Linked DNA regions of Homo sapiens. The protein of the gene in region 1 purifies or fractionates together with the protein of each later gene. This does not show direct contact. Each region holds a gene or a part of one and is shown on either strand. Other genes may lie near its edges.

Region 1 (7,876 bases):
ACTTCGTGGATCACAGCTGCAGCTCACCGCCACATCACAGGATCCGTTAACGTTAATACCCAATACTCTGTCAGCCACTGTAGGCTCTAAGAACCACGTGCAGTCTTCAGCCCATTAAATTATCGATTATTTTTTAATGAATTGAATTTATATTGAGTCTTCAAATTAACTGAATGGATTTAAAGGGGTACCAAGGAGGGGGGAAACATCAGAATTTCCCAGGCAGTTGTTGCAAGGAATTGGTACTAACCGTGACTACAACAAAAATTCTTGATTGACTTTTAAAGTTATTTCCTGGCATTCTGGTACCTTCACCCAGCCTGAGTGCCCTGGAGAGGGAACAGGAAATGCTGATCTCTACCCCTGGGTGAGACCAGAACCTCAGGGCTGATACTGTTGAGTGGCTTCCTCGGTTTACTCTGTGTACTGTGAAAGTATTTTCATATTTTTTCTGTGTGCCAGAGTGAAAAAGGACAGCTTCTGAGTGTGGTAATTGTGCCTCTAGCACCCAGCCTTTCAAAGCCCACCTGAAACCTGGGGGTGGATGAAAGAACTAGAATAGAAGACTGAAGCTGGGTAGGCCGCTCAGTGTCCACTGGCATTTTGCTAAACCGACAAGGAAGGCTGTGTGCTTAGCTCTCCCCAGAGGGAGGGCGAGAAGGGTGTGGTGATGGTCAATCTGGCTGTCGGAACAGATTCTGGTGTCTTGGGCTGATAACAGTGTTGTTGATTCTGATTGTGAATCCCCTCAACTCTAGCAGACACATACACACCCCTGAAATGGGGCTGCAGAGCAGGCTGTCTCAGCCTTGCCACTGTCGGCATCTCGGCCTGGGTAATTCTGTTGTGGGGACTGTCCTGTTCCTTGTAGGATGTTTAGTAGCATCCCTGCCCCCACCTACTAGATGCCAGGGGCACTGTTCTCCCCAGCCCCCCGCCCCAGTTGTGACAATAGTCTCTAAACATTGTCAAATGGTCCAAGGAAAGGGGAAAATTGCCCCGGTTGAGAAGAGCACTGCTGTAAAGTAATGAGCCTCGGCTCTCCTGTCTGCACCTGTCCGGTTACTACTTGGCCACCACGCAGCCTTGGCTCCTACAGCCCAAAAGGGAGAATGGAGGGAGGCTCCAGGCTTTGCTGGAGGGGCCTGGGTGAGTTCTGTTTGCTCCTTGTACCACCATCCAAATGGTGTTATCAAATCTCTTAGATTCCAAAGAGGTTGAATAATTAATGTTCAAAGGCAAGAGGGCAAGGCATTTTTTAACACTTTTTAAAATAAAAATTTATACCACAACTTTAGGCTATTGATGTGATGTGTCACTGGGACAGATGCGGATTCTCCATGGTGCCTCTGCCACTGAGGCCGCATTTCCTGAGCATAATCCCCTTTTACCCTCCCGCTGCCAAGCAGGAGACGGGATGCTGATGGTAAGAACACCTCCCTGCCAGTGCATTTTGGCGCTCAGGATGAGAGGCCTGCAGCACTGCTGTCCCCGCGCCTGGCTCTGGGGCCTTCCCTTCACCCCCACTCTCTCAGCACCATGGTGAGAAGAACCAAGTTTGCCTGTGAGGAGTTAGGTACAAGGCCCAAGCTCCACAAGAACACTGCTGTTAATGGGCAGAGCCAATGACGACACAGACCAGCAAAGCAGAACCGAGACTGTCCGCACTTGGTTCGGAAACAAATACTCACACCCTAGGTTATTGCTGGTAACGGAGACCTCCTTCCAGCTCCCACAGTCCTGCTTGGTAGATTTTCTACTTGTTGCTACAATCATCATCTTTGCTTTGGGTCTGTCACGTGAGGTTAGGGTTTCAGGAATAAAATGTTTAATAAATCACAAAATATTTTAGGCAGTATTTTGATGTACATTTTAATGTGTGGTATTTATGAAAGGGAAAGGGTTTTCTAATTATAATAAAGGCATAAATAGTGTAAATATTCAAGATTTTAGAAGCAGCTGATTTCAGAGAAATCACTGAAAGGTTAATGCTACTACAGTGATTTTTACAATATGCAATAATCCAAGTATACGACCAGGTATAGTGGCTCATGCCTGTAATCCCAGCACTTTGGGAGGCCAAGCTGGGAGGATCGCTTGAGGCCATGAGTTCGAGACCAGTGTGGACAACACAGCAAGACCCTATCTCCACAAAAACATTAAAAAATATTAGCCAGGTGTGGTGGTGTATGCCTGTAGTCCTAGCTTCTTGGCAGGCTAAGGTGGGAGGATCACTTGAGCCCAGGAGTTTGAGGCTGTGGGGAGCTGTGATCACACCGTGCCTCAATAATAATAGCAATCATCATCATCATCATCAAGTATAGAGTCCTGAAATTGAGAGCTCAAAACTCCCCCCTGCCCCTTCTCAGCTGTGTTACCCAGGCCTTGCTTCCTAACCTTTCGCCGTCATTATGCAAGTATAGAGTCCTGAAATTGAGCAGCTCAAAATTACTTTTCAGCTGTGTTACCTAGGGCTTGCTTCCTAACCTTTCTTAGCCTCAGTTGCCTCATCTATAAATGGAGAGTGCAATAGCACAGAAGGCTAATGTGAAGATTAAAGAAATATGATATATCATAAGGTGCCTGGCACAAAAATGGCAGTTTTTTTAAACTGTACGATCTTGCTATATATAAAGAACTGGTTGTCAGGTATGTTACTTAAAAATAGTGACACCACGCTGGACGCGGTGGCACACACCTGTAATCCTAGCACTTTAGGAGGCTGAGGCGGGTGGATCACCTGAGGTCAGGAGTTTGAGACCAGCCTGGCCAACATGGCAAAACCTCGTCTCTACTAAAATTACAAAAATTAGCCGGGCATGGTGGCGGGTGCTTGTAATCTCAGCTACTCAGGAGGCTGAGGCAGGAGAATTGCTTGAACCTGCGAGGCAGAGGTTACAGTGAGCTGAGATTGCGCCATTGCACTCCAGCCTGGGCAACAAGACCAAAACTCCGTCTCAAAAAAAAAAAATTGTGACACCAATAACCTAAAACTCAGTGCTACCGTTTTTTATTAGCACAAGGGTAACTGGTGTTGAAACTGTACAGACAGCTATTTTTATCATTTCTGAGATGAAACCCCAATCAACATATCAGGAAAAAAGGAAATACTGACCTCACCAAAGATTTCTGAAAGTCAAACGATATTAAACTCAAACATTATATATGTCTCTTTCCTTTTATGCAGGAATTAATGTGATAGATTTATGTTGAGAGTAGAATATGAAAACTTTTGCATAGTCTGTATTTAGGCCAAAACTGCCTTTACTACTCAAGAAAGTCCAATGGGCCAGTGAGGACACTGCAGGTGACAGAAATTTCTATGAGTGTAACACCTACAAGCACTGTGCTCACAGGACTGACTGTTACACCAAAAAGGTCTCTTGGAGGAGAAGAAATGCAATATGCAAAGAAGCTGTTGTCTCCAATTATTCAAGCCAAGGCTACAACAGTAGCCACAAATCTGCCAGTTATTTCCAATTAAGGCAGAACGATTGACTTAAAAAGCAATAGTTGTTTTTTTTCTCCACTGAGCTTTCAATTAGATAATGTCTATAACCTTTATAAAGCTGCAATTATACAGCCAAAAGAAAAAAAATTAATTGTGGTAAAACATACATAAAACTTACCACTTAAACCACTTTTAGGTGTGTAGTTCAGTGGCAGTAAGTACACTCACAATGTAATGCAGGCATCACCAAAATCCATCCCCAGGACTTTTTCATCTCTCCAAACTGAAACTCTGTCCCCATGAAACACCAACTTTCCATTCCCCCTTCCACCAGCCCTCAACAACCCCCATTCTATTTTCTGTCCCTATAAGTTTGACTCCTCTAGGTACCTTATTATATAAGTGGAATCACACAGTATTTGTCTTTTTTTGACTGGCTTACCTCCCTCAGCATAGTGTCCTCCAGGTTCATCCATGTAGTAGCAAGTGTCAGAATTTCGTTCTTTGTTCAGGCTAAAAAATGTTCCCTTGCATGCACAGACAACATTTTGCTTATCCATGTATCTGTTTTTGGACACTTAAATTGCCTCCACCCTTTTGGCTATTGTGAATAGTGCCGCTGTCAACGTGAGTGTAAAAACATTTCTTCTTGTACACCCTGTTTTAAATTCTTTTGGGTTATATACCCAGAAAAGAAAATGCTGGATCATATAACTGATTTGTTGAGGAACCGCAGTATTGTTCATCACATGGCTGCACCATTTTACATTCCCAACAGCAATATACAAGGGCTTCAATTTCTCTACATCTTCACCAACACTAATTTCTGGGGGTTTTGCTAGTAGCCATCCTAATGGGCGTGAAGTGGTATAAACAAAATTTAGATCCCATCATCTCCGAAAAGCAAATACACTTCCTAGTACTAGTCAGTACTAAATAGGTGCACAGCGTTTAGAACTTTACTTGATCCAACATAGCAGCCTGCCTAGAGCCGGAGCCCCGCCCACTCCGGAGTCCCGCCTGGACGCCGACGCAGCGAGGGCGCTATGGCTGGCGGCCTCGCCTCCTGGAAAGGCCATGGTCGCTGAGGCGACGAGCGAGGGCGGGGCAGCGCCGACGGGGACACTCATCCCGGGAGCCAGAGCCAGCACCGAGAGGGGACGGTCTACGCGGGTGCCGGCGGTTCCAGGACTGCGAAACCACGAGCCGAGTTTCGGTCGCCCATGGGAAAGCACCCGGCAGGGCGTGGCTTCGGGGCGGGGCGGGCAGAGGGCGGAGCAGGATGGAGAGGCGAGGTGGGCGGAGCAGAGGGCGTGGCTTCGGGGCAGAGTGGGCCGGGTACCGCGCTTGGTCTTAGCGCATGCGCACTCCCGGCAGCTACGCGACCTGTGACCATGGTGGCTGTGCTGGGCGGCCGGGGCGTGTTGCGCCTGCGGCTGCTTCTCTCAGCGCTGAAGCCCGGGATCCACGTCCCACGGGCCGGACCCGCGGCCGCGTTCGGGTAATGGCGGCCACCTCGCCCCGGGGATCCCCAGCATCGGCGCGCTCGAGGGGCGGCGGGAGGGGCGCGTGCCGACAGCAGGAGTTCCCGGCGCGCGGGCACGGGGCGTGGGCGCGGCCTGGCTGCCCTGTCGCCCTTTGTGCCGCGAGACCCCGATCCTGGGGGCCAGCCGCGCTTGGTGCTCGAGCCCCTCGATCGTGCATGCGCCTCGGTCAGCCTCAGTTCAAGGAGTCTGGAGCCGTGGAGGCTTGGGCTATAGAGTGCAGCCCCTTCAGTGTGCAGACCAGAGAGACCCAGGGAGATACATTTGCCTGTAGTATGGACTCACCCGTGACGGAGCACGGACTAGAATCCCAACGCCCTCATTAGTCCATTGCTCTGTCCAGAGTCCACACTAAGGGCATAAGGACAATAATCTCTTCTTTCTCTTATGTCAGAAATCAGCCTGAGCCTGAGTACCGCTAAGGCTTTAATCACGGGTCCCGAGAGCCCTAAGTCTTCTCTTTGCTTGCTGATCTCGTACCTTAATGTGCAAAAGAATCACGTTGGGAACTGAAAATTCAGAATCCTGGGCCTCACTCCCAGAGGATCTGATCTACATGTGTGGAGATGCCCAGGAATCTGCTTTATTCTCTTTTGTCCTCCCACCTGTCCCCCCATTTCAGGTAAAACAATAACAAAAAAACTGGATTAATTTCTGACCTTCTGTCTTGAAAATGGATACTCTTGGTCCCAAGAGATACTGGGCAGAAATGTGGATAGAGCGGCATGAAGCTTGTTTTACTTTATTCTCTACATACATCCCTACACACATGCAAACACACGTATACAACGAACGTACACAGTGCATGTGCGCAGTTGACTGTTGATGGGCTACTTTCATAAAGTCAGTACTAGATAGGTACACAGCGTTTAGAACTGTACTTGATCCAACATAGAAACTTTTAGTTTGAAAACTTGATTTAGAAGGAGAAAAGAGGGCAAATCTGACCAGCTTTTAAAATTTCATATTGCAATTGACTAGCTCCTTTAATTTTAGAATTATTATAAGATGGTCAGGGCTATTTTGATAGATGGAAAAACATGTTAATGGCTACAGCTGTATAAATTAACAGTGAAAATGATTATTTTTTCCAGTTTCCTGTCTGCAGAAAGGCATCGAAATAAGTTACTGTGATTGTACCAATATAGTTCTTTTTTTTTTTGAGACTGACTCTCGCTCTTTTGCCCATGCTGGAGTGCAGTGTTGTGATCTCGCTCACTGCAACCTCTGCCTCCCAGGTTTAAGCGATTCTCGTGGCCTCAGCCTCCCGAGTAGCTGGGATTACAGGTACCTGCCACCATGCCCGGCTAATTTTTGTGTTTTTAGTAGAGATGGGGTTTCACCATGTTGGCCAAGCTGATCTCGAACTCTTGACCTCAAATGATCCACCTGCCTCAGCCTCCCAAAGTGCTGGGATTACAGGCGTGAGCCACCGCTCTCGGCCTACCAGTATAGTTCTGATAGGTTATTTAATGGTTGAGGAAGGCCCCATCCATCTAGTTGCATTGCAGATCATTCTTCCTAAAATATCTCTGAAGAAACAGGTTTTTCTGGATTTTGTACGGCCGTTTTATAAATGCAGCTGCAAGTTGATATGACATATAATCTGGGAAAACAAGCAGTGGTATTAGTTAATCCTGAAATGCAGCTGTAGCTCAGTGTCAGTAGGTAAAAGGATTCGTGTAAAAACTTTGCTTCAGAATAGCCAGTGCCCAACCTACAACTGACTTTTGTTCCAAAAACTTGTTTGTAAGTCTGCTGTTTGGAACTTTGACCCTTATTTCAAAATCCGTAAGGTGATTTATTCCTGGGTCAGGTCAAGAAAAGCCTTTTCTACCTGAAATTGGATATTATGTGCAGTTATAAATATTAATAATTCACATAACCTAACAATCTTCCTAAAAAATATTTTCCAAGTTCAACCTTGGGATGCCCTGCCAGAGAATCAGAGACTGTCCTTCTGCTGACGCTTGCCACCACGCTGTATCTGGCAGTCAGAGTGTGGCCCCGGTGCCTGAGCCCTCTTAGGACTCTGTTCAGCCATGAGGTTAGAGAGGAATCATGGCCTCTGGAGTTCTAATGGCCCCGTGGCCACTTCCTAGCTCTGTGAGTGTGGGCAGATTGTTCAACCTCTCTGAGCCTCCTGCCTTGCAGCGTTTTTGTGAGGATTTGAAACAATAAATGTAAAAGCCTGGGGATATAATAAACATGAAGTAATTAGTAGGCACAATGGGAATATTTATATAATAGTACAATATATAAGAGATGTAAAAATAATTCATCAAGATTCATGCAAATTTCAAGCCCTGAAGGTAGCAAATACTTTATTGTAGATAATGGCTACTTCACAAAACATACACAAAAGAAATAGCTGAACATACAATATGATAATAGCAGTTTCTTTTTTTTTTTTTTTTTTTTTTTTTTTGAGACGGAGTCTCTCTCTGTCACCAGGCTGGAGTGCAGTGGCACGATCTCGGCTCACTGTAATCTTCACCTCCCAGGTTCCAGCGATTCCCCTGCCTCAGCCTTCTGAGTAGCTGGGATTACAGGTGTGCACCACCATGCCGGGCTAATTTTTTTGTGTGTATTTTAGTAGAGATGGCGTTCCACCATGTTGGGCAGGATGGTCTTGATCTCCTGACCTCGTGATCCTGACCTCGTGATCCACCCACCTGGGCCGCCCAAAGTATCGGGATTACAGGTGTGAGCCACCACACCTGGCCGATCCTAAGCTATCTTAACTGTAGAAATGAATTTCTCAGAGGAATAGGGCAGTAATCATAATAAGTAAATGGCAGAGTCAGTATTGCCATTGCTTGGTGGCTTCATTGATGCCCCTTTAATAATATTTCTGTAGATAAGGAGCTTATAGTTTAGT
Region 2 (7,966 bases), on another chromosome or scaffold:
GTTCCTGGCTCAGCCTCCACCTGGCCTCGCAGCCTCTTGTCCTGCCCCTCCAGAGGGGTGTTCCTAAAACACAAACCTGACCCTGTCCTTTCCCTACTCAGAACCTCCCAGGGCTCCCCAGAGCCCCACCCCCCACCGCCACCCCACCCCAGAAAGCCCTGGCTCCTTCCTACAGCCCTGCGCAATCTACTCCCTGCAAACTCATCATAACCTCCTCCAGCCTCCTACGCTGTGGCCCCACTTATGGCCTCCATGCCTGGCTCTGCTCACCTTTGGGCCTTTGCCACCTGTTTTTGTTTTTTTTTTCCCTGCCTGGAGTACCGTCCACCCTCTCTCCAGGCAGCCACTCTCACTTCCTCCCTGAAACACTTCTTGAATCTATTTCTGTCCCTCCAGCCTGGCTGGCGATCACCACCCCTCCTCACCTGTCCACTAATCTAGACTCCTTCCTGTCTTACCCTGGAGTCCAGTCTCTGCATGGCAGCCAGGGATCTTTTCTGAACACTAACTGAACCACAGCACCCCGCTCTTGAAACTTCCCATGGCATCGACCACCCCCAGGATGACACCCATATTCCCCAATCTGACTTCCAAGGTTCTACCTCTGGCCTCATCTCTCACTGGTCCTACCTCCCTCTCACGGCTCCCACCGGATCGAGCTTCTCCACACTTTGCTTCTGCTCCCGTTGGAGGCCAAGTCTCTTCCAGGGCTCCAGACCCTTCCCACCTCCGCCTTCTCCAGGGTTTTGCTGCTGCAAGTCCCCCCTCTCCTGTGCAGAATCAATTCTCCATCTCTATTGGACTCTACTCTCTTCCATCCTTACAAAAAATCCATCTTTCCCTGACACTGCATCTTCTCTCTTTTTTTTTTTCTTGAGACGGAGTCTGTTGCCCAGGCTGGAATGCAGTGGTGTGATCTTGGCTCACTGCAGCCTCTGCCTCCAAGGATCAAGCAATTCTCCTGCCTCAGCCTCCCAAGTAGCTGGGACTACAGGTGTGTGCCACCACACCCAACTAATTTTTTCAGCAGAGACGTCGTTTCACCATGTTGGCCAGGTTGGTCTCGAACTCCTGTGCACGTTCTCGTCTTACCACCCTCCCCCATTTCTCCACTCCCCTTCAGAACCAATACTCCTAACACTTAACATTTGCTGTCTCCACTTCCTCCCCTCCCATTCACTCTTCAGCACCTCCTGGCTGCATCACCCCCATCACTCCCCAATAACTGCTCCTGTCAACATCACTACCAGCATCCATGGAGCCAAAGCCAATGGCCAGTGCTTGCCTTGGCAGCATCGGACTAAAGGCACCAGCTCCTTGTTCTAGAAGCGCTCCCTTCTCTCAGCCTTCCCGACACCTTTCCTGGCTTCCTTTCCACCTCACTAAGTGCTCCTCCTTAGCCTCACCCTCTTCCATTTGGGTTCTGTCCTAAGTCCCCCCTCTAGACCCTCTTACTAGATGATCTCATCCATTCCCAACCATAGTTTGATCACACCCAAATTCTTCTCCAGTCCAGACTGGCCCATTTACTTAATGTGTCTTCTTGTAGGGCTGGGCGTGGTGGCTCATGCCTGTAATCCCAGCACTTTGAGAGGCCGAGATGGGCGGATCACCTGCGGTCAGAGGTTCGACACCAGCCTGGCCAACATGGCGAAACCCCATCTCTACTAAAAGTACAAAAATTATCTGGGCATGGTGGTGTGCGTCTATAATCCCAGCTACTCGGGAGGCTGAGGCAGGAGAATCGCTTGAACCAGGGAGGCGGAGGTTGCAGTGAGCCGAGATTGCGCCATTGCACTCTAGCCTGGGCAAAAAGAGCAAAACTCCCGTCTCAAAAAAAAAAAAAAAAAAAAAATTCCAAACTGGTCTTTGTAATGACTCACGGAGACCCTGCATGATCTGGCCTCTGTCCTAATCTCATCTTGTTATTGGTCTCCCCCTAAGTAGCCAAAGCCCCAGCCATGCCAGTACCCTTTCATTCCCCATCCCAGGGCCTTTGCACAGGCTGCTTTACCTCCCTGGAACACTCCTCTCCAGTTCTCCCTCTGTGAGTTTCAGCTTAAACGCCTCCTGCTCAGTAAGGCCTTCCCCCACTACCCTATCTAAAGTAGCCTCCAACCCTTATTCTCTACTTCATCACACTGCTGGTTTGCTTTCAAAGCACTCATCACAATTTAAGTATTTTACTTATTTACATGGTTTTTTTTTGTTTTTTTTTTTTTCATGTCTGGTTCACCTGCAAAATTACAAGCTAAGGACAGGGCCACATCTGTCTCATTCACTGCTATATCCCCAAAGTCAAGCACAGTCCTTGGCACATAACAGGTACTCAATAAATATTTGTTGAATTAATGAATGAATGGGTGCCCCACACTTGACTCTCAATATTCTAAGTGATACTATTCTTAAGGATCCCCACCCTTACTCCCAAGGCCCCCACCATCACATTCCTTTTCCTCGGGTCAGCCCAAATCTCCTACTTCCTTGTTCCCCCCATCTAATGATCCATTCCCCACCCCCACGATTGCCTTCTCTATTGGGGCTGTGCCCCCTCTACCCCCCACTTGGCGGCACCCACCCCAGGACTCCCCATTTGGTAGCGCCATCAATCACTCCCCCACCACATGTCACTGCCTGGTAGCGCCCTCTACAGGCCTCACGTTTGGTAGCGCCCTCATTCCAGTCCCCCTCTCGCCCCACAATTGGTGGCGCCCTCCTCAGTCTCTCCACTGAGTAGCACCCGCTCCGCACGCCACTCCTAGGTATCACTCTCCGAAGCCCCCTATGTCGCTCCTTGGCAGCGCCATCCTGGGCCTCCCCACGCCCGGTCACTTGGTAGTGTCTGCCCCGCGCCCAGGCTGCAGCTCCGCGTTGCTATGGTTCCGCGCGGGCCCGGCACCCCTCAGCCTGGGCCACTGTCCACCCTCCCTGCCAGGCGGGCGCACCTTTGAAGTAGTCATTGGCCTGAGTCTTGAGCTCCTCTGCCCGCTTCAGAGCTCCATCAGCCGGGGGTTCGTCCCGGGGGGGCTCAGCACACTCAGTCCTCTCGCCCTCCGCCATCGCCATGCCGCAAAGCGACCCCTACCCTGGCAACGGCCGCCAGCGGCACCCGGCCGAACCGTCGCGAAGGAGCGCCGGGTGGCCGCCGCCGCTGCCGCACAAGTGTCGTAAAGCGCGGGCCCTGAAGGCGCCCTTCACGCGCCTGCGCAGGTCCCTTTCGCCACAGAGCGCGCGGAGGACAAGGTGACCAGAGGTTCCCCAGACGGTACCCCTGGTAGAGAGAGCCAATAGGGAATGAGAGAAGGGGCGCGCGGGGAAACAGACCTGGTGTGGCCTCTCCTCCCAAAGTTACCGTGTTCCAAGGCTGTAAAAAGTTTCTCGGTTCTGAAAGTGGGATTTCCCCGCTGTCCTCTAGGGTTGGGGGGTGGGTTGTGAATGTCGCTGGCGGGTGTGGCTGTTTTGCAAGGCAGCGCCATGCCCTACGCGGAGCCGGACCCGGGCGTCGAGCCCTATTGTCGACTACCTGTGTGACCTTGAACAAATCTTCCCTTCCTCTCTAGGGTCTCAGTTACCCATCTCTGAAAAATTAGTGGTTTCTCAAGCCAAAAAGGGTCCAACCTTGAGGGTCAGTGTTTGAGTTTTTAACTGAAGGCACTCTGGATTTCAAGTCCTGAGCAAGGCTTAGAAGTGTGTTGCACCATCTCCTTTCTTCCTGTGTTCAGCTTCCCAAATCCTGAATCTTCAAATAAACTCTCCTGTTTGTGTTTTTACAGATTCTCTTGTCTGAGATCACAGCATTGATTGCATGCACTCTGCCTCCCTCCAGTTTACCCTTCACATTTTTTTTTTTTTTTTTTTTTTTTTGAGAGGGAGTCTCCCTCTGTCGCCCAGGCTGGAGTGCAGTGGCGCCATCTAGGCTCACTGCAACCTCCGCCTCCCGGTTTAAGCGATTCTTCTGCCTCAGCCTCCCAAGTAGCTGGGATTACAGGCGCCCGCCACCATGCCCGGCTAATTTTTGTATTTTAGTAGAAACGGGTTTCACCACGTTGGCCAGGCTGGCCTCGAACTGCCGACCTCAAGCTATCCGCCCGCCTCGGCCTCCCAAAGTGCTGGGATTACAGGCGTGAGCCACCGTGCCCGGCCGAGGGATCTTTCTAAGACATGATAAAACCATGGCACACTCTCGCTCCCAGGCTTCCATGGCCCCAGCACCCTTAGGAGAAAACCCAAACTCCTGATTAGGAGACCCTGAATAGTCTTAACCTCAGGCTGAATAGTCTAATATCCAGATTCCACCCCTTTGCCAATCCCCACCCGCCGTACACGCTTCCAGTCTGTCCTTTCTAAGCCCTCATGTAGCACTAAGTCCTGTAAGGCTCTGGATCCCCTCCTGGAAGCACACTCCTAAACCTATCTATCCCACTCCCAAACCTCTTGTTAGTCCAACCCCATCTCTCCTACTGGCCCCCAGCACAACCAACAATCACCCTAAAGGGCAGATATTAGTATCATCTCCATTTTACAGATAAAGACACAGACTTGCAGAGGTGTTTGACGAAGGTCACAACAACATAAGAAGGTGACAGAGCCAGGATCAGGAATCCCATCTAATTCCTATGTCCTTCATTGCCACTCTACTGCCTCTGTAGGTGCCAGAGCCCATCTTGGTGGGTTAGTAAATTTTTCTTTTGTTTGTTCGTATTGTTTGTTTTGGGGTTGGGGGAAAAGGAGCTGCCATAGTGGATTTGAATTCTGGTTTCGAGTCCAGCGGAATCCTTCCTGACACTGTGACCTTGGGCAAGTGATCACCCTCTTCTAAGCCTCAGTTTCAACCTCTGTAAAGTGGGGATAATAATTATCCCCATCATACAGGATTAGAGGAGAGTTCGACAACATGAGTACAGCATTTGTCAGGGAGCCTGACACAGAGTAGTACTTTTATATTCACTCCATCACAAATACTCAAAGTGGGCTGGGTATGGTAGCTCATGCCTGTAATCGAAGCACTTTGGGAGGCCAAAGCAGGCAGATCACTTGAGGTCAGAAGTTCAAGACCAGCCTGGCCAACATGGCAAAACCCCGTCACTACCAGAAATACAAAAATTTAGCTGGGCATGATGGTGCGCACCTATAGTCCCAGTTATTAGGGAGGTTGAGGCAGGAGAATTGCTTGAACCTAGGAGGCGGAGGCTGCAGTGAGCCGAGATCGCGCCACTGCACGACAGCCTGGGCTACAGAGTGAGACTCTGTCTCAAAAAACAAATAAAACAAAACAAATATTCAGAGTTGGGCAGAGTGCCTAGTGCTGTGATGGGAGGGGGCTTCCAAGGGGAGCTTTTAGGGGCACTTTACCCAATTGGAGCAGGCAGGGAAGGCTTCCTGGAGTAGCTGTTACCTAAACCAAGATGTGAAATATGAGTAGGAGGTAACCAAGTGAGGGGAGAGGGGAAGGGAGAGAGGCATTTCAGGCAGAAGAATAGGAAGTGCAAAGGCTTGAGAGTGTTTTTCTTCCCTTGAAGAGATTCCTATGTGCAACCCTGTATGGGGGGTTATGAGAGTGACGTACATGACAACAGACACACCCACCTGCACATGAGTCCATGGACACACACTCTTGCACACACATGCTCACTTAACTATGGGCAATCATGTCACACACACATTGGTACCCAGAATTATAGCATCAAGCAGTCCCACACATGTACACAGAATCACATCATACAGACATACATAGGCAAAAAAAAAAAAAAAAAATCACAGCACCTTCCACACTCAGAAACACAGAAACCCAAAATAACCAGAAACACACATAAGGCAGAATCACTTCACCCAGATACTAATATGCACTTGTAGAAGGAATCACAACCCCACCCACCTGCTGCAACACAGGTTCACAGAATGTGACAAAGACCCATACACATACACAGAATGACACTGTGCACACACTCGTGTGCATGCACACACACACACACATACAGATACACAGAATCAGAAAGTAACATGGGGCTGGTGCAGTGGCTCAAGCCTATAATCCTAGAACTTTGGGAGGCTGAGGCAGGAGGATCGCTTAAACCCAGGAGTTTGAGACCAGCCTGGGCAACATGGTAAGGCTCTGTCTCTACAAAAAAATGAAAATAATTAGCTGGGCCTCGTGTCATGCACCTGTAGTCCCAGCTACCGGGAAGGGTGAGATGGGAGGATTGCTTGAGCCCAGGAGGCTGCAGTGAGCCGTGATCACACCACTGCACTCCAGCTTGGGTGAGATAGTGAGACCCTGTCTCGAAAGAAAGAAAGGGCCTGGCATGGTGGCTCATGCCTGCAATCCCAGCACTTTGGGAGGCCGAGGCGGGCAGATTACCTGAGTTCAGGAGTTCGAGACCAGCCTGACCAATGTGGTGAAACCCCATCTCTATTAAAAACACAAAAATTAGCTGGGTGTGGTGGCACATGCCTGAAATCCCAGCTACTTGGGAGACGGAGGCAGGAGAATCGCTTGAACCTGGGTAGTGGAGGTTGCAGTGAGCAGAGATTGTGCCACTGCACTCCAGCCTGGGCAACAGAGTGAGACTCCAAGAAAAAAAAAAAAAGAAAAGAAAGAGAGAGAGCGGAAGGAAGGAAGGAAGGAAGGAAGGAAGGAAGGAAGGAAGGAAGGAAAAAAAAAAAGACACTCAGCCACCAGTGCACCCACACTCCCAGAGGAGATCCAAAAGATGAGTCAACACGCAGAGCTCTGGTGCCTACCAAGGTGAGGTCTTTATGGTGTATAGAGATTGGTGAGTTTCAGAGCCAGTGTGGCCAGTCTAGTCCCTCCCCTTTCCCTAGCCCAGCACAATTCCCTCCATTGAGGGCCCACATCACCTCCAGAGGGAGGAGGGAGGGGTCAGACCCCCCCATAGCACCAATCTGGATAGGCCACTCTCTGACAAAACAGAGCGAGCAGTGCCTTCCACAAACGGGGTAAATGGGGCTAAGAAGGGGGGAGGCCTTTTCCTGTGGGAGACCAAGAGTAGCACCATCTGTAGAAAGAAAGCTGGGGGGTAAGGGAGGCACATAGATGGTGGCAGACAGCTGAGGGGTCCTGGCTTCTCTCCCCACCTGGCAATATGCAGACAGCACCGTGCCTGTGCATGTGCCTGTGTGGCTGGAGAAGTCTTCAGATTGCAAACCACCCAAGGGGTGAGGGAGCCCCAGGTGCCCCAAACATGTGGGGTAAAGTCAAGGTAAGTGCATGTCTGGAGGGCTGGGGTGGGAAGTGGAGGGGGTTCTGGGGCACAGAGATTGTAGGCAATGAGAATGGAGAGGCATGAAGTCCAGGAGCAGCACAGCCTAGAGGGTAGGGGTTTAGAATGGGAAAACTTAAGACTGAAAGAAGGAATTGGGTAAGTTCAGTGGGGTGGGAAGCCCAGAATAGATTTAGGAGGCTGGGGTCTGGAATTAGGGAGTTGAGGTTATAAGATTCAGAACCAGAGGAATCTTTAGGGAAAAGTCTAGATTCCAGAATCAGAAGCATTTGGAGGCTGAATTATAGAATCAGAGGAATTTGGATCTGAAATCAAAGGCAGTTGGAAGCTGTGAGGCTTAGAAGCAGAGGAATTTATAGAATAAAGCATAGAATTAGAAAAAGCCTGGCTGGGCTCAGTGGCTCATGCCTGTAGTCCCAGCACTTTGGTGAGGCCAAGGAGGGAGAATTGCTTGAGCTCAGTAGTTCGCGACCAGCCTGGGCAACATGGTGAAACCCCGTCTCTATTTTTTTTTTTTTAACAAAAAAAAGGAAAAACAAAAGCCTAAAATCTGAGTTCTAGAACCAGAGAGATTTGGGAACCATAAGATCTAGAATCAGAAGGAGTTGAGGGTGGTAAGATCTAAAACCAGAGAAATGTATAAGGCAAAGTCTAAAATCAGAAGATATTTGAAGGCTGAATTCTAGACCCAGGGTAATTTGGAGTCAGATCTTGAGTGAGGAGGA
Region 3 (7,102 bases), on another chromosome or scaffold:
AACTAAGAATAAGGTGGATGTGAGCTAGGTGCTTGCTCAGTGCTCTCTCTTGGGTACGTTAAGTGGGGGATGTTTTTATGATGCCCCAGGGTTTGTCTGCTTTGAGAAGTGTACCTGCCTTGTACTTCTCACATTCATTATCATGGCTGTCATATGTCTGTCTTTTAAAAATAAACCAACCCCAGAACAGCAACAACAAAGTCCAAATCCTCTTTCTTGTGCAGACTAGTAGGTTAAGTTGAAAGAGAGAAGTGTTTCAGTACCATGCCTCTTATGTTACAGAATGCAGCAGTCCGGCGCCTGGCCCAGGAAAAGAGTGGGAAGAGTATGTGCAGATCCGGACTCTGGTTGAGAAAATACGGAAAAAGCAAAAAGGTAAAATTGCTAGAATGATAACTGTATTTTAATAATGTCATGTAGAAACTTGATTAGGTCAAAGGGTTGACGAGTAGTAAAGGTCTCAGCATCATTGGTGTCACTCTGAAAGGTCTTGTACTGGGGCTTGCAGACCGGGAGAGAGAGCAGTTAGCGGGATTTCTCCCCTTTCTGAGATGCTATTACCTGCTTCGGAAAGGGTGAGAATGTTGAGCTTTAGGAGAATAAAATGTTTGTATCTGGGTGCTAAAATGATACAATTTTATTTATTTACATTTTATAAAGTATTATACCGTTATTTCCTTTTGAGTTTCAGGACAGTGCATATAGTGTATATCGTCAATAACAAATAAATGCTGATTGGTTAATGCATTAGCAAGGTTTATAATGAACTCACACACATCTCAGTTAAATAAGAGGTGTGGTCATATTCCTTAAGCTGTGTTTTTACAGGACGTATGCAGTCGCCATTGTAATGATTCTCATCCAGGCTGGCGTGGGGCTAAGTGTGAGTTTGAAAAAGCTCATTCACTATACCTATTGTTTTTGTTCTGTAAAGCACAAAAAGTAAAGATTATTATGCAGGACCACATGGAAGGTAGAAGCAGAAAACATCCTAAGGAGCATGCATTGGAATGTGGGGCCCTTTCTTATTGTCATGAAGGGCCTCAGGAGAGGGTTTGTTTTTTATTTGCTCTCTTTAAGTAGTGGTTTTATTGCTCTTCCATACACATCTCTAAACATGTAGTCTTCAGTTTAGATGGTCTCAGACTCCAAAATGGTGAGTTCATAATGGGTGTTTTCAAACAGGTTCCTTCATAATGGGTTTATTTGCACTAAATAGGAGTCTGTGCTAATCCTTTGTCACCAAGTGGGTAGCGCCTTAGTTTCTCTTCTGCGTAGATACTGTTTACTATACCTGACACTGAGGGTAAAGCATTTGCCAGTTCTCAAGGAGTGAATAGGAAGTTCCGTCTTTGAATATTCCTCATTCTGGTCATTTTCGCCATTTAGCAGGTATCTTCGCATATCCAGCATGCCCTCTTCACATATCAGGTTGACTGTTAATTATGCTGTGGTAAGATGGCCACAGGCGCCTGAGCTATGTGCCACACCCAGCTTCCTCATAGTAAAGTTCCTGTTCCCCTCCTTTTATTCATCCAAACAGAATAGTTTTTTCTATGCATGTCTTTTCATCTTTTTGACTACATAGGACATGCTGAAAAGTTCAGAAATTAATATAACAGATGTCCAAGAATCTGCTACCCCAGCTGAGCACATGTCAAAGTTGTATTCTCATTGTCCTTTCTTTTATTCTCACCCACTGATCAGCTTTCCTTTCCCTTCCTCAGCCCTTGGTTTTGTTTTTGTATTTGTTTTTAAGAAATAAAACATCACAGATACAGCCAAAGCCTCACATTTTCATCCCCTTCCATTCCCTCCCTCCTTGCAGGGTGTTCATCTTCACTGTGAATGTTTTCTACTTCATAAATAACCCCATAAAAATATATGGTTGTAATTGATATTTGAAAAATTTACATAAATGGTGTCATATTACGTGATTTTTTAAAAGCCACTGTGGTACATTTAGTGTTATACTTATGTTGATACACATAGCTCTAGCTCATTTAAATTGCCTTACAGCCTTCTGGCTTACAGCTCTACAGTTTTGTGTTCTTAGAATCAGGGCTGTGGGGCTCATCCTTTCCCATGTCTCCTTGTGCACATACGCGAGCTACTCATTTTTGTTTTAATGGAAATTTTGTTAAAGCAAATGTGAACATGAGAGGTGGCATGTTTGACTTTTAAGGAGAAAACTGCTCTGTAAATCATAGTAGTGGTAATAGAAGCTCTCTGCCCTTTGCCATCGTATTACCTAATAGTACCTAATAGTCAATATTTATATTACCTAGTGTCAGTATATATTTCACTGTAACTGACAGGGAGTTTAGGATTTTAATTCTTCTTCCCTGTCACCAGTTAAGGTATGTACTGTGACCATCTGGTGATTAGTTTTGATTTCAAGATTGGCGTGTTAAGACTATTTCCAGTGTTAGTTATGGCCTGTTTTTATTTTCTGAGAGACGTGTGAATGATATGTGTCCTAAAAGTAGCTCTTGTTTTCTAAAACGTGGATTAATATAGGTCTGTCCGTTACTTTTGATGGAAAAAGAGAAGATTACTTTCCTGATCTAATGAAATGGGCCTCTGAAAATGGGGCTTCTGTCGAGGGTTTTGAAATGGTTAACTTCAAAGAAGAGGGCTTTGGTTTGAGAGCAACAAGAGATATCAAGGTGAGTTTATAAAATGTTGGTCTCAAGGGGTCTATGTGTTTGAACTGTGGTGTGCTGTAGAGGGCGCAGGGTGAAGAGGTAGACGTGTGGTGGGGGAGTTCTAGTTCTGAGCCTGTGGGCAGATAGGCAGCCTGGAAGGGCCTTGGGCTCATGTTCTAAGCAGCTCCTCCCACCTTATCCTCCTGGGGAGCCAAGTTGCTAATCAGTGACTGGGGCAAGTCAGTTCACATTTCTGAGCCTCTGTTAGGAGACCATAGAACATGCCTCACAGGATTTTGAGATTTACCTAAAGATAAGGAGGTGGACTCATGGTTTGGATTTTGTAACTTACTGGAGGTGAGTGGGTGGAGGACTGGCGGTGTGGGTATGCCTACTAGTGTCTGAAATGGATGACTATGAGGCTGAAGGTACTAGGAGCTCACTGAAATGGCAATACCAGTGGCAATAGGGAGAGGAGAGAGAAACAGCCACCTACTAAGGAAGAAGGGCTTTTTCTCCCCTCTTGGTTCTTGGTTCTTCTTTCCACATGAAGGGAGCAGCAGTCACTGGCCATGCCTGGCCTCTTCTCACCCCTCACTCATGTCTCTTCTAAGAGGAGGCACTCCTTCATCTGTTGGCCAAGTTTGGGAGAAGGAACTGGACTTGGCCTTTTTCTCGATGGGAGCTAGTTGCCCGTATGCATTCATTCCACTCTGCTCTCTGCCCTGGAAGCTTTGCAGGGGCAGGCCACATGTGGGGAGGGCGGTGGGGATCCAGCTCTGCCTGTAACTAGGTGGGGGAGTCTGTCTAATTCTGGGATTCAGTAGGTGATATTTTGGGTGACCATCTGTTGTATTCTATCTCTCTCTCAGTTGCTTCAGAACTTGGGTGGAGGAAGGGGTGTTATTTGGGCCCCCTCAAACCTCCAGCAACATTTTTGGCTAAGTTGTAGTTAACCTTTCATTGATAGATTGATAAATCACATGCTGGTATATTAGATACCTGTTAAATGTCTACTGTGTGAATGGTAGTATCTTGCTTCCAAAAAAACCAGTCTCTTCCTTCATGATGCTTATAATCTATATAGTAAGGGACAAGACAGGTACAAATAACTTAATAGTTGACATTGGTGAAAGCAAGATGCCACATGTTCTTCTCTTGTGACAGATTCAAGGCAGTATTTGTGTGGATGCTGCCCAGAAGATCCGAGCTGTGGACTTTCCTCACTATGTGCTTTTGTGGGGAGGCGAGGGTTGGGGAGGAGGTCTTAAACAACAGACATTTATTTCTCACAATTTGGAGGCTGAATGTCCAAGATCTCAGGGTGCTGGCATGGTCTGTTTAGGTGAAGACATTCTTGGTTTGCAGACAGCTGCCCTCTTGCTGTCTCCCACATGTTGGAGCGCCATGTGCATGTTTTTTGCAGTGTAGATACACAGGACACAGCAAAAGGAAGCAGCCTGTATTGCCAAAAAATGAGAAAAAGCTTTGGGAAACAAATTTCTAAACCAATGTGTCTTCTGGGCATGTGATTTCACTAGTAACTGTTGTGCTTTAAAGATAAGTATGTAGAGGAAGGAATGTTACTCTGGCTTCAAAACTCAGTAGTAGTAGTAATTCACATCGACAGATTAGGGTTTTTGTTGGAGGCAGGAATTTTGTTTTGATTTGGTCTGGTTTTAGAACTTAAAAGTACAGTAAAGTATACAGTAAACGCCTTTATGCTCTACTCCAAATGTTATATTTGCTTCAGGTTAAAGTTGAAAGTCCCTTTTTTGATTATTTGCTTCTCAGCATATGTAGTTTTTAGTTTTTCTGTTGGAAACAGGATTTTAAGCTATACTTCTACTCATTTAACTATAAGATAAATGCTTACATTTTAAAATGTATTTGAATATTTATTTGAAGTGCTGATATGCAGCCTTAAGTTGTACTTCATGTGTGATTGGATTTCTGACCGTAGATATGGTTGGATTGAAGACTGTACCGTGTTTTGATGATTCTCCTATTATTATTTTTTTCCCTAGGCAGAAGAATTGTTTTTATGGGTTCCACGAAAATTGCTAATGACTGTTGAATCTGCTAAAAATTCAGTGTTGGGTGAGAATAATTTCTGACTCTTCAAGGCAAAGCACAAATGACAAAAATATGTAAAATTCCATTTTATGGCACTAAGGATAATACTTGGTTTTTCTCGACTGGCGAAATATTCCCTCAAATATGCATTAAGTGTTTTTCATTTAATGTTATAAAAAAGATGCACATGACCTTTATTTATTATTATTATTATTTTTGAGATAGGGTCTCGCTTTGTCACCTAGGCTGGAGTACACTGGCACCATCATAGCTCACTACAGCCTTGATCTCCCAGGCTCAAATGATTCTCCCACAGGTGTGCACCACTACATCTGGCTAATTTTTTTTTTTTTTTTTTTTTTGTAGTGATGGGGTTTTGCTATATTGCCCAGGCTGGTCTCAAAGTCCTGAGCTCAAGCAATCCTCCCACCTTGACCTCCCAAAGTGCTAGGATTACAGGTGTGAGCCACTGCGCCCAGCCTGTACCTGACTTTAAATGTTACAAGACCTTTTAGTTTTTCTGTAATTTGTAAACGTATATTTAAATGAAGTTTTTAAGAAGTTTGTGGAACTTACGCTGTTAACTTCTGGGTTAATTCAGGGCCCTTATATTCTCAAGACCGAATCCTTCAAGCCATGGGAAACATCGCACTGGCCTTTCATTTGCTGTGTGAGCGAGCCAGCCCTAACTCCTTCTGGCAGCCCTATATTCAAACCCTCCCCAGTGAATATGACACTCCTCTCTACTTTGAAGAAGATGAAGTTCGGTATCTTCAGTCCACACAAGCTATACATGATGTCTTCAGCCAGTATAAAAACACAGCTCGACAGTACGCCTACTTCTATAAAGTCATCCAGGTGAGCAGCTGTTTGCAATTTAAGTATATATTTCACAGAGTGGGGAGGAAAGAGGAATTGAGTCCATAAATATTCCATTTGATGTCTTATTAAGGATACTTAAACATTTTACTTTTTAAATTGAAAATATAAAATACATTTCATCGTTTGTTTTTACAGAAATATCAATGAAATGCGGTTACATATATATATCTGATTTCATCAGTGCCCAGTGTTAATACAAGCAGCAGTTGTTCCTGAGTTATTGAAATCACCAAGTTTTTTTGTAAACAAAAGATCACAATGAAATTTTAAAAGCCTTAAAGCATATCTAATGCAATAAGTTACTCTGTGTATAAATTTTTCAAGAAAATGAGGGTTAATTTTTTTCTATATATGTTAGTGTAAAATATTGACAGTTAATTTAGCAAATTATAACATTTATGTTTTTCAACGTGTACTGTGTATTAATTTTAATTTGTTCTCAGTGAAAGTTTCTCATAGAAATCTCTATAAGGCTCCAAGTATTTGAATTACCTGTGATGACACCTTTCTGTATTTTGGTGGTGTGGCCACCGTTATCTTTCATTTGCAGTTGAACAGCAGTCAGAAGGAACAGGGCCAGTACCACAGTCCCCACCAGGACTGAGAGGCAGTGTGGCTCCTTCTCCTGATTCTGCACAATCTGAATCACTCAAGAGTCAGCTCCTGGGCTGCTGTTCTTGAGATACGACAAGTGGGCAGGTGAACTACTTGCTCGCTTTCCTTGTCTTTGGTTGGTGTGACAACCTGAATTAGGTTTGATTTGGTTGTTCCTTAAATGGTCTATCCTTGCTATGTTTTATTTGCAAGAAGTGGTAACCTCATTTCATTGCTACAGGTGATATTGCTTTCCGTTTATTATTTTCACTTTGTAGCATGCTTACTACACAAGAATGTTACACTCAGTTACATCTCCTCCTCCAGCAAGCACTTCAAATATGTCAAAAATTATACATGACTGTTGTCTTCATGTGGAAATCAATCACTCGGTTTTTCTAAACTTTAGGAAGTCATTAGGAATGGTCATACAGTATGTATATAGCTTTTATTTCAAGTTGGCTTAATTTAAAAACTATTGATGAAGCCAAATCAAAACTTTGCTTCTTCATATAGTGTGCACCTGCAGTCCTGCAGTCTAAGGTTGGTTTGGCTCTTCATGACCTGGAAGGGTTATACTTTTATTCTTAGTTCTCAATGGTATATCTTTCATGACTAAAGGTTAAGCTGACTTTAGTAGGTCTAAGTATTTGTCATTTTCTCTTGCTGGACAATGAACTACAAGCTGGCCCTTTTTACTAATGTGCTTCTAGTTTGCAAACGCTGGTAGCCTGCTCTGAGAGGACTCTCTTCTGTTGGCAGGTTGGAGGGTCTAGGATGATGGCAGGTCTTCTGATAACCGACTTGGCGTGAATGAGCTTTGGCTGTTTCTTTGTATTAACTGGTCCATTTACTTCAGTATTAACTAAGTAGTGCAGCTTTGCTTCAAAATTTGATGAGTT

Evidence for each region.
Region 2: the proteins of BPHL (region 1) and PPP5C purify together in Homo sapiens (affinity purification with mass spectrometry; 2 studies listed by BioGRID and IntAct, with this or other methods). This does not show direct contact.
Region 3: the proteins of BPHL (region 1) and SETD3 purify together in Homo sapiens (affinity purification with mass spectrometry; 2 studies listed by BioGRID and IntAct, with this or other methods). This does not show direct contact.

Annotation. Positions count from the first base shown.
Region 1 is NC_000006.12:3,113,896-3,121,771, forward strand, and holds the start of BPHL (serine hydrolase BPHL isoform 1 precursor), read left to right. Parts: upstream 1-4,845; coding exon 4,846-4,952; intron 4,953-5,389; exon of another isoform or gene 5,390-5,561; coding exon of another isoform or gene 5,562-5,617; intron 5,618-7,876. UniProt on the Homo sapiens protein: Specific alpha-amino acid ester serine hydrolase that prefers small, hydrophobic, and aromatic side chains and does not have a stringent requirement for the leaving group other than preferring a primary alcohol.
Region 2 is NC_000019.10:46,342,197-46,350,162, reverse strand, and holds the start of PPP5C (serine/threonine-protein phosphatase 5), read right to left. Parts: upstream 3,077-7,966; 5' UTR 3,067-3,076; coding exon 2,946-3,066; intron 1-2,945. UniProt on the Homo sapiens protein: Serine/threonine-protein phosphatase that dephosphorylates a myriad of proteins involved in different signaling pathways including the kinases CSNK1E, ASK1/MAP3K5, PRKDC and RAF1, the nuclear receptors NR3C1, PPARG, ESR1 and ESR2, SMAD proteins and TAU/MAPT.
Region 3 is NC_000014.9:99,456,759-99,463,860, reverse strand, and holds part of SETD3 (actin-histidine N-methyltransferase), read left to right. Parts: intron 1-282; coding exon 283-375; intron 376-2,520; coding exon 2,521-2,669; intron 2,670-4,675; coding exon 4,676-4,748; intron 4,749-5,325; coding exon 5,326-5,582; intron 5,583-7,102. UniProt on the Homo sapiens protein: Protein-histidine N-methyltransferase that specifically mediates 3-methylhistidine (tele-methylhistidine) methylation of actin at 'His-73'. Histidine methylation of actin is required for smooth muscle contraction of the laboring uterus during delivery.